Linked DNA regions of Homo sapiens: region 2 is linked to region 1. The links come from fine-mapping of genetic effects on gene expression. Tissue or cell type: prefrontal cortex. Region 1 holds a variant in brackets; the other region holds the start of a gene. All regions are shown on one strand. Distances are between the middles of the regions.

Region 1 (5,000 bases):
CAGAGGAAATTAAATATTCTACTTCCATCTATGACAGTGGTTCCAAAACCTGCCCACTCATAATCTCTTGTAGAGCATTTTAAAAATATTAACACTCCATGAAATTTTGATTTAGCAGGTCTACTCCATGTAGATTCCATGAAACTTTTGCAATTATTCTTATGTTTTGTGAAAGAGGGAGAAGAGTTTTCATTTTCTAAAGTCCTAAACCCAATTTACTTAGGGCAAAGGGAATGATAATCATATATTCAATATCCTACTTTATTCTAGAGATGTAAATATGCCTCAGAATAATCCTGATAAAGCAAGCTCTTGCTGCGTAGTTTGGGCATAGATGGCTGAGATTATACTGTAAAATGCAACTTTCATTAAAGAACAATTTATGGGGATTGTTGAATTATGACAAGGCCAAGGTAAACGTTAAAATGAAGTATATGCAGTTTGTAGATTTATAAAATTGTCAGAAGAGTTTCAAAATAAGCAAATGGCTGCTTTTAAGGTCATTTGTAATATATGCAACTGTACTTCTATTTGCTTTCAGGCAAATTATATCCAATTTAAATGTTATTCTTCAGAAAGTATGTCTAATAAAATTCACCACCATAACTTCTGCATGGGTAATGCCTGCTCTCATCACTGAAGACTAGTTTGCTGTCAAAACTTTCAAAGAGCCTCCAAGTGAAATGAATACTGAAGAATAAAGCTTCTAAAGGCTATTTTGGGTTCCGACACCTCCTTTCTCATGTGGCATTAAACTAAGCCAAGGGCACCTTGTCTCATAAAACTCACTTCATGAAATACCTCTTGTAAAACTGCAGAAAATGGGAAGTTTGAAATTAGAAACAGAATACAAAAGAGAAGCTAGCCCTTAACTACATGTAGCATCTTCAGATTTTTAAGTAGGAGGAAAAGTGGTTAAGAAAGGGTTTTCTGTGAAAATTGCATGACTATGTTATATATAAATTAAATAGCTAGAATGTAAGGGACAATAGCTAGCTTTTCTGTAGCCCTGATGTTAAAACAGAAGGAAGTTAACCGAAATCTGGGTATTAAAAATAATTTAATGATGATGAATGTTTTAACAGATCAAATGGATATATTGTAGAGAATTTCTCTTACCTCTCCTTTAGAGTCATGATGCCTGGTTATGCCAGGCTAGTTGTAGAATCATGGATAAATCAAACGGATCTTCTAGGTCTCAGAATTCTCATTTGTAAAATGGAGAGTTTGGATACGTAATTTAACTTCTAAGGTGTCTTCCTGTTCTCTGGACTCTGACTTAAAGTGTTATTTCCTCCTAGAAGCTTCGAAAGTGTAAACTGTTTTCTAACATGCTCTGGCATTGTTTAGTATGGTGCTGAGCATACAGGAATTTGGCTGTTCATTAATAATAAAACCTAAGTTTTCAATAGTATGTTACTCCTTCAAAGTACTCTTATAAACATCAACACTTTCAATCCCAATTCTCACAACGTTATAGAGAGGAACATGGACATGAATAATTCCCTTCATTTTATTAAGGAGAGAAGCAAAATTCAAGCGATTTGGGATCCTATCTAAATTACAAGACCAAGAAGTAGCCAATCTGGCTCAAGAAGCCAAGATTTCTAACTCCTCATCCACAGCATCCTATTGATGAAGTCATTTGTATGAGTTGTGCTTGTATACAGAGGCTATTTTTCTAAATTTCTAACTATAAAAACAGCAATATTTGTGGCAATAACTGTTTTAATGTCATCTTTGAAGATATCCCCATTGTTAATCGTCTTTGTTTAGTCCCATGGTACACTCATATGGGAACTCCAATCTACCTCATAGTTCCCTTCCCTGAAGATTCAGCAGCCCCAGAAACTCCAGCCTGGCCTGGTCATATATTTTGATAAACAGGTGTGACATGCAGTTTTATCTTATCCATCACCCCCATAAAGCATAAGCTCTTACTTATGAAATTTTCTTTGTAACTTCACTGAGTGAGCAATTGATAGGGAGAAAGCTATTCTTACTCTGGTGCTTTATTGTGTTCACATGTGACACTTTCTTTGAATAAGCTACAAATTTGGTAAAATTTCTTTATCCTCTTTTTTTGAGATAGGGTCTTTCTCTGCCATTCAGGCTTGGAGTGTAGTGGTGCAATCATGGCTCACTGCAACCTCAAACCTCTGGGCTTAAACAATCCTCCCATCTCAGCCTCTCCAGTAGCTAAGACTACAGACACACGCCACCACACCCAGCTACTTTTTTTAAAAAAGTGTTATTTATTGTAGAGACCAGGCCTCGCTATGTTGCCCAGGCTGATCTGGAACTCCTAGCCTCTAGTGACTCTCCCACTTCAGCTTCCCAAAGCACTGGGATTAACAGGCATGAGCCACCACACCCGGCCCTTTTCTATAGTTATCTTTTATATATTAGCAGAATTTTCTCATATTTGCTCCCAGAAATTTTGTGTTAAATGTTCATTTTATAACTATTAAACAATCTTTTATGTTTTGGCTGAGAACATTTCACTTCTTTGTACTATACCTGGACCAGACTTGGTAGACAAATCAGAAAGTGTTGTTGTTGTTTGTTTTTATATAGTATTTTTTGTTTCTTAAATTTTAAGTTCAGAGGTATATTTGTAGGTTTGTTACATAGGTAAGCACGTGTCATGAAGGTTTGTTGTAAAGAAAGATTTTTCAAAGATTCTGAAGCAAAAAACATCACCTAAACATAGGCCAGGCAC[G/A]GTGGCTCACGCCTGTAATCCCAGCACCTTGGGAGGCAAAGGAGGGAGGATCACGAGGTCAGGAGATGGAGACCATCCTGGCTAACACGGTGAAACCTCATCTCTACTAAAAATACAAAAAATTAGACTGGCGTGGTAACACGTGCCTGTAGTCCTAGCTACTCAGGAGGCTGAGGCAGGAGAATCACTTGAACCTGGGAGGTGGAGGTTGCAGTGAGCTGAGATCGCGCCACTGCACTCCAGCCTGGGCAACAAAGCGAGACTCCGTCTCAAAAATGAAAAACAAAACAAACACACACAAAAAAACTAAGTTAATTTATACTGAGTTTTCTATTTAAAATATAGAAATAGTCATCATTTATATGGAACCATATTACATAACATAATTTCATATGGAACTCTTTTGCAAGAAAGTCAATAGACTCTTTCATACCTATAACTAGAGATTCTAATGTGTTATACTGAAGAGAGGTTCAGGGCTCCAGAATAATAAGACACTTTCTCTGTCCCTTAGACTCCTATGCAGGATAAGGTGAATATACAATATGTATATGCACATACATGCGTTCACATATGTTTGTGTGTGAATACATGTACAAACTGCATATGAAGAATAAATGCAACTATAATTATGTTTTATAATTGGACTATGGAGTGGATACATTGTCTTATATACAAATAGGCCCATAATACTCATTGGTTGACACCTGAATGTTCTGCATGAATCAGTTCATCCACTTAGAGTGTGCATAATTCAATTTACAATGTCACCACCTGCAAGGACACGGTCAATTCAGGTATAGTCACAGTTCAAGGTTGTTTTGTTTGGGCATTTTGGTGGAAATTTAACATTAAGCAGGCAGGTCTAATTCCTGCTTATTCACTATAAATTAGAGTTAATAGTTATCACCTTATTCCCTGGCTAACATTTAATAGATATACAGCACTATACCAACTAACCACTTCACAGTACATATACATAATTTAAATAGGAAATAATTCTGAAGGTTTTCAGATGCCATAAGCAGCAGACCTAACTAGGTGATCTTTGAATTTTATTCTTACAATATTAGTATAATATGTTTCTTCTAAGATAAGAAAACAACTAGAAAATTTGTCATTAAAATTGCTCCAACCTCTAAAAATTCTTACACTTAAAACATTTTGCAGCCTAATTGACAAGGTTAGCATTTTATACAGGTCTATGTCTTCTAAACTATTATTGTGTTTTTGCAATATACTTATCAATTAATTGTGATAACAATTAAATTGGGTATTGTGGTACCAGAATTACAATATTACCATTTATGATTTCTTATATTTAGTAATTAAGATATTAAATGTTTTATCTCTGGCAAGAATATCCAAAGACCATCGACCATATTTTATCTCTGTCAAGAATATCCAAAGACCACATTACTATGTCCAAATACATAGTAATCTCTTAATCTTTTTCTTTTTCTTTTTTTTTTTTTGTTGAGGCAGAGTCTTACTCTCACTCAGGCTGGAGTGCAGTGGCACAATCACAGCTCAGTGCAGCCTCAACCTCCCTGGGCTCAGGTGATCCTCCTATCTCAGCTTCCCAAGTAACTGGGACTACAGGCACACGCCACCATGCCTGGCTAATTTTTAATATTTTTTGTAGATTCAAAGTCTCATTATGTTGCCCAGGTTGGTCTCAAACTCCTGGGTTCAAGTAATTCTCCTGCCTTGGCCTCCCAAAGTGCTGGTATTACAGGCATGAGAAATGAAGCCTGGCCTTTTAATCAATATTTTTGAAGCCATCACTGAAATTTAATTGAAAATATTGTTTATATTTTTGCATCATACTATAAAATATATGAATATAGGGAATCTTATTCATATGCAATGAAATATATATAATGTTTACAAAGAAAATATGAACAAATATTTTAAAATGAAAACTCAGGATTATAAGTATACACAAATACATTGTATGTTGATTTGCTCTTACTAATGGCTGCAAATTGGCTTCAATCTTCCTAGCTATTGTACTTAATTATAACATAATTTGATTGTCTCCAGACTCCATACTATTTTATACACAATCACTCAGAGCAGAGCATTCGACTCATCTTGGCTTTTTTTAACACCTCCACTTGTAGTCATGGCCTCTGCTTTACCATTATGTCAATACTTATGGTTATTTTCTGGACAAAGAAATATTCAGTACCAAAAGTGTATTTCTATCTTTACCTTTGCAAGATGGAAAACTGCTTGCATCTTTAAAGTAATAGTGTCTGTACTAGGTTTTTGT
Region 2 (5,132 bases), 780 kb after region 1:
GGTAGGTGGAGGAGCAAGGCCTAGGGAGGGTTTCAATTCTGGGCTTCTTTATAGCTTGGTAAGGAAAGAGCCTGTTGAAAGGGTAAAAGATTGAAATGCAGGTAAAGAAAAGAAAATAAATGTCTTAATGGAAAAAAGTTTTTAATTTAAAAAGTAAAGAAAATAGGGCTGGGCGCGGTGGCTCACACCTGTAATCCCAGCTCTTTGGGAGGCTGAGGCAGGTGGATCATGAGGTCAGGAGATCGAGACCATCCTGGCCAACATGGTAAAACCCTGTCTGTACTAAAATTCAAAAAAAAAAATGAGTTGGGTGTGGTGGCATGCGCCTGTACTCCCAGCTACTCGGGAGACTGAGGCAGGGGAATCAGTGGAGGTTGCAGTGGAGTGCCAGAGCTGAGATCGTGTCACTGCACTCCAGCCTGGTGACAGAGCGAGACTACATCTCAAAATAAATAAATAAATAAATAAAATAGCAATAACACCTGTCATCAACCACAAAATTGTATAAAATAAGTTAAAGGCCATTCTTTTTATTATTATTATTATTATACTTTAAGTTCTAGGGTACATGTGCACAACGTGCAGGTTTGTTACATATGTATACATGTGTAAAGGCCATTCTTAAATCCTCCAATTTACAAACCCTTTTCTACTTTACTGTTAATAGTTTGGTGCAAATCTTTTTCTTTTTCTTTTCTTTTTTTTTTTTGGACACAGAGTCTCGCTCTGTCGCCAGGCTGGAGTGCAGTGGCATGGTCTTGGCTCACTGCAACCTCCACCTCCTGGGTTCAAGCGATTCTCCTGCCTCAGCCTCCCAAGTAGCTGGGATTACAGGCATGTGCCACCATGCCCGGATAATTTTTGTATTTTTTAGTAGAGATGGGGTTTCACCATGTTGGCCAGGCTGGTCTGGAACTCCTGACCTCGTGATCCGCCCGCCTTGGCCTCCCAAAGTGCTGGGATTACAGGCATGAGCCACCATGCCCGGCTGGTGCAAATCTTTTTCAACATCTTCTTTTATTTAAAGAAGTATCACTCTTTTCTCTTTCTCTGCATCTGTTCCTAAATAAACCCGTTATTAAATAAAAATGGTGCCGTATATGCATGCATGTTTTCAAATTACTTTTTTTCATTATATCTATCACAGAGGTCTTTCTAGGTTAATATTTACACTCATATCAAATCCATCTAATTCATTTTAGTTGTTGTATAGTGTTCTTTTGTTTGGCTAGATCATAATTTGTATAGAAATTTCTTTTTTATTTTGTAGAGAAGTGGGGTCTCACTATCTCAAACTCCTGGACTCAAGTGATCAACCCCTCAGCCTCCCAAGGTGCTGGGATTGCAGGTGTGAGCCACCACATCTAGCCTCAATGTGTGTAGAAATTTATACATTGATATACCTTTCTTGGTAGCTTAATTCTAAAAAGTGGATTGCCCTGTGTTGTGGGCTGACTACTCCCCAAAGATATCCATACACTAAGCTTTAGAATCTGTGAATGTTACCTTATATGGCAAAAGGTATTTTGAAGATGTGATTATTAACTTAATCACCTCTACTGAATATTGAAATAGTAAGATTATCCTGGATTACCTGGGTGGGTCCTAAATGTCATCACAAGGCTATGTGATGGCAGAAGCTGAACAAAGCAGTGTCAGACAGACCAAAGATGCTACATCGTTGGCTTTGAAAAAGCAGGAAGGTGGCACAAGCTAAGAAATATAAGTGGCTTCTAGAAGCTTGAAAAAGCAAGGTAATAGATTCTCCCCTGGAGCCTCCAGAAGAAAATAGTCCTTCTGGTACTTTGATTTTAGCCCTACAATACTCATTTTGGATTTTTGGCCTCCAGAACTGTAAGAGATACATTTGTGCTGGTTTAGTTAACCGAGCTTGTGGTACTCCAATGTGACTTTATCTGAACTTTATTACATCTGCAAAGACCCGATTTCCAAATAAGGTCATATTCATAAGTATGAGGGTTAGGACTTGAACATAAATTTTTGAGGGACACAATTCAATTCACACACCCATTTTCAAAAAGTCAATTCGATCTGTGAGTGGTTTTAAAATTTGATTTCTGTGAACCTACCATTTAATTCTGGAATTGTTACTGCCTCATTCCAAAGACAAAATTCTTCCTCCATTTGAGATTTTAGGAAGTCCTAGAAGAAATAGCTGAGCATGGGTGGATATTTTGGAAATAATCCTCATGGTATGGAGCAGAGAACGTCCCCAGTTATACATATGTAGCACATTATTTTATAAAGTTAGTATTTGAGCAAAACTAAACAATATATTTTTACACACACATATGCAGAATATGTGTATGTGATTTACGTATGACTATGCCCTAAAGAAAAGCAGCAAAGTGAGGGGACGTGGACGGCAGGGATGGCACATGCAGAAGCACGCAAGATTCCGCGGTGTGGAGGGTTCGTGGGTGCGTATAATTATCTTCCATTATTTACATGTGTACTTTATGCGTTCGTTAGCTATATTTTTGTATGTTTTAATATGCAACAAAACGGCGTATGAGTTACGCTTTAATGTAAAATTGTCTACATAACACAAAATTTAAAAGAAATGGCATACGGATAGTAGAAAACATGCTTTGAGGAAAAAGCGTCATGTACTAAGTCCAGAAATCGACATTGCAAAGAGGCACCAACTGTTTTCATCAAGCTGACTTTTCCAGGTGCTACTCAGAAAAGCTGACCGATGATAGAGCACTGGGTCAACTCACGCTAATTATGAAACCGTGAGTAAAATAATCTGTGCTTCTATGTAACTTAAGTACCCACAAATCAGGAAGCATTCCCGGATGAAAAGCATTCACAGAACCATACGCTGGTTCGCCACCTTCCCGGTGCAAAAACCCTTTCCTCGGAAATTCTCAGCGCAAAGACTTTGCCCTATTCCAAAATGGCTCCGGCGCCTACAACTTAAGCATAGCGCAGGTCCGGAAGTTACGCAACCCCATAAGGTAGCACGCCGTTACCCGTGGGGAGCGTTTCCGCCATTTTTGAAAATTAATTGGGAAGGTACTGGTTTTAAGTGTAGTTGCCGACGCAATGGCAGCCTTTGCAGTGGAACCTCAGGGGCCCGCGTTAGGTGAGTGAAATATTGCTTTTCCTTGCTGGCACTGCCATCCATGCTCTGGGCCTGGAGGCGGGCAAGACTGAAAGGCAGTCGTCAGGCTCTCGTCTGCTGGTTTCAGTCGCGGAGAGGGAATCCTTGGGTGCCCCCAAGTTCATAGTCGGTCCCCTACTCGACGCGTCGCCTCCATACTGCTACAAAGGTGGCGCCGGGAAGCTGAGGGCCCTGGGAGGGTGAAGAAAAGGCCGTCTGGCGGTGACTGAGCTGTGTTTGTGCCCCCACACGCCAGCCACGTTAGACTGGCCCATACCTTAACCTCCTTCTGATACCCGAGACGCGATGCTGGTTGCTGGATTCCCAGCTGGTTGCTGGTCCCCAGAAGCATCCCTGGGAGGAACTGACCGCGGTACACGTGGGTGGGCGGTGCCCTGAAGTGTGTGGGTGCAGTCCACTGCTTCTTGATCACCGGTGCTTCCAGTTCCTGTTTTGACTCCTCTCTCCCGGGCTTTGCCAAAGGAATCTTGTTATTAATGGAAGCTTGAATCGTGCAACATTTAATCAACCGTGTGGTTGGTAATCATTGAGATATTGACCTTAACAGCAAGCTAGGAGTTCGCACGATATTTCCCGCCTTTATTTGGGGAAAGTGACTCTTAAGTATTGTAGGAGGTATTTTTCTCTAGTAAGTCACGATCTGAATTTTTTTAAAGATTCATTCCCATTATTCATTGCGGAGCCTCGTTGAAATATGTCGTCTTTGAAAAAAATCTACCACTTTAACAGCACGCGGATTTCTTTTTTTCCTGCTGAGTTTTGCGACTTGTGAGAATCGTCGAAAATTTTAGAACGGAAAATAAACCGTCTTACTGTCATAGAGACTTACCTGAAAAGTTAGGTTATAACTTTCTGAGCTTGGAAAAGAGAGCAAATGTAATATATATGGTGTGGAAAGAGTCTTTAGATTTGAAGGGTATGTAATGCTTGCCATGTTTGGTGTAAAATAAGTTCTTTTTGAGAATAGAGTAACTTGAACTACTTTAGTCTGTCATAAAAAAACTAAATGCATAATGTCAATAATGCAGATACTCTGCATTAAAATTTATATATAGATGTCGTCTTGGTATTTATTTTTAATGTATTTTAGAGATCAAAAACTCTTCATTTCCAGTTCCAAATTTTTCTATTCAACAAAAACATTTTGGAGTGCATATTTATTGGGGTTACAAATGTGAGTAAACCAATCCCTGTATATTGCCTTGCCAGAAATCTGACATTAGCCAGTATTAATGTTTAAGTCCACATTTTGCAGATATTCCAGGTGCCCACTGGTGTAGTAAAACTAAGGGTTGACTTCAACAAACTGCTAGCTGAGTACGTATCTTTTGGGAGCACAGAATATGAAATGGAATTGAGGACATGCAGCATCTTTTCCTTAAGTTTGCTTTAAGTGAAATTTAGCCTGAGGGGTGGTTGGTGACAGTCCTGATTAAGAGCCCATTGTGCCCTCCTTCCTGTCTGGTGCTTTCTTTTTTCTTTTCCTTCCTTCTTCCCTCTCTCCCTCCCTCCCTTCCTCTTTTTTGACACAGCCGTGTCACCTGGGCTGGAGTGCAGTCGTGCAGTCTCAGCTCACTGCAACCTCCCCCTCCGGGCTCAAGCAATCCTCCCACCTCAGCCTCCCAGGGGCTGGGACCACAGTGTGCCGCCACTCCCAGCTACTTATTGTATTTTTGGTAGAGACAAGGTTTCGCCATTTTGTCCAGACTGGTCTCGAACTGAGCTCGAGCGATCCACCTGCCTCGGCCTCCCAAAATCCTGGGATTAGAGGCTTGCGCCTTCTACTGTGTCTGTATGTATCCAGATACATCAGAACTTTTCTTAAGCCAATTCTTACTTTATTTTGCTATAATTTTTTTTTCTTTTAGGGAGGGGGAGTGAATGTAGTGAATGTTACCAAAAACTTTGCGTTTAATATGGTATTCTGAATATCTGTTAAGAATATGCTTTTGTTTAGACTTTTGGTTTGATTTTAGTGGAT

What was found. PIP is the estimated chance that this variant, and not a neighbour inherited with it, causes the effect.
Region 2: NUP35 starts here. The variant in region 1 is fine-mapped to the expression of NUP35 in prefrontal cortex (BrainSeq, PIP 0.95).

What each region holds. Positions count from the first base shown.
Region 1 is chr2:182,339,690-182,344,689 of GRCh38, forward strand. All of the region lies in intron 1 of PDE1A (phosphodiesterase 1A), which reads right to left. It overlaps LOC124907915 (a long non-coding RNA gene), which reads right to left and starts at 2,774. Exons shown (of 2, transcript XR_007087329.1): 1 at 1,120-2,774. The variant G/A (reference allele first, on the strand shown) is at 2,723.
Region 2 is chr2:183,121,386-183,126,517 of GRCh38, forward strand. NUP35 (nucleoporin 35) reads left to right here and starts at 3,058. Exons shown (of 9, transcript NM_138285.5): 1 at 3,058-3,112. The coding sequence starts at 3,073. It overlaps LOC124907917 (a long non-coding RNA gene), which reads right to left and starts at 3,572. Exons shown (of 2, transcript XR_007087331.1): 1 at 3,408-3,572; 2 at 2,532-3,322. RefSeq lists an enhancer at 3,108-3,876.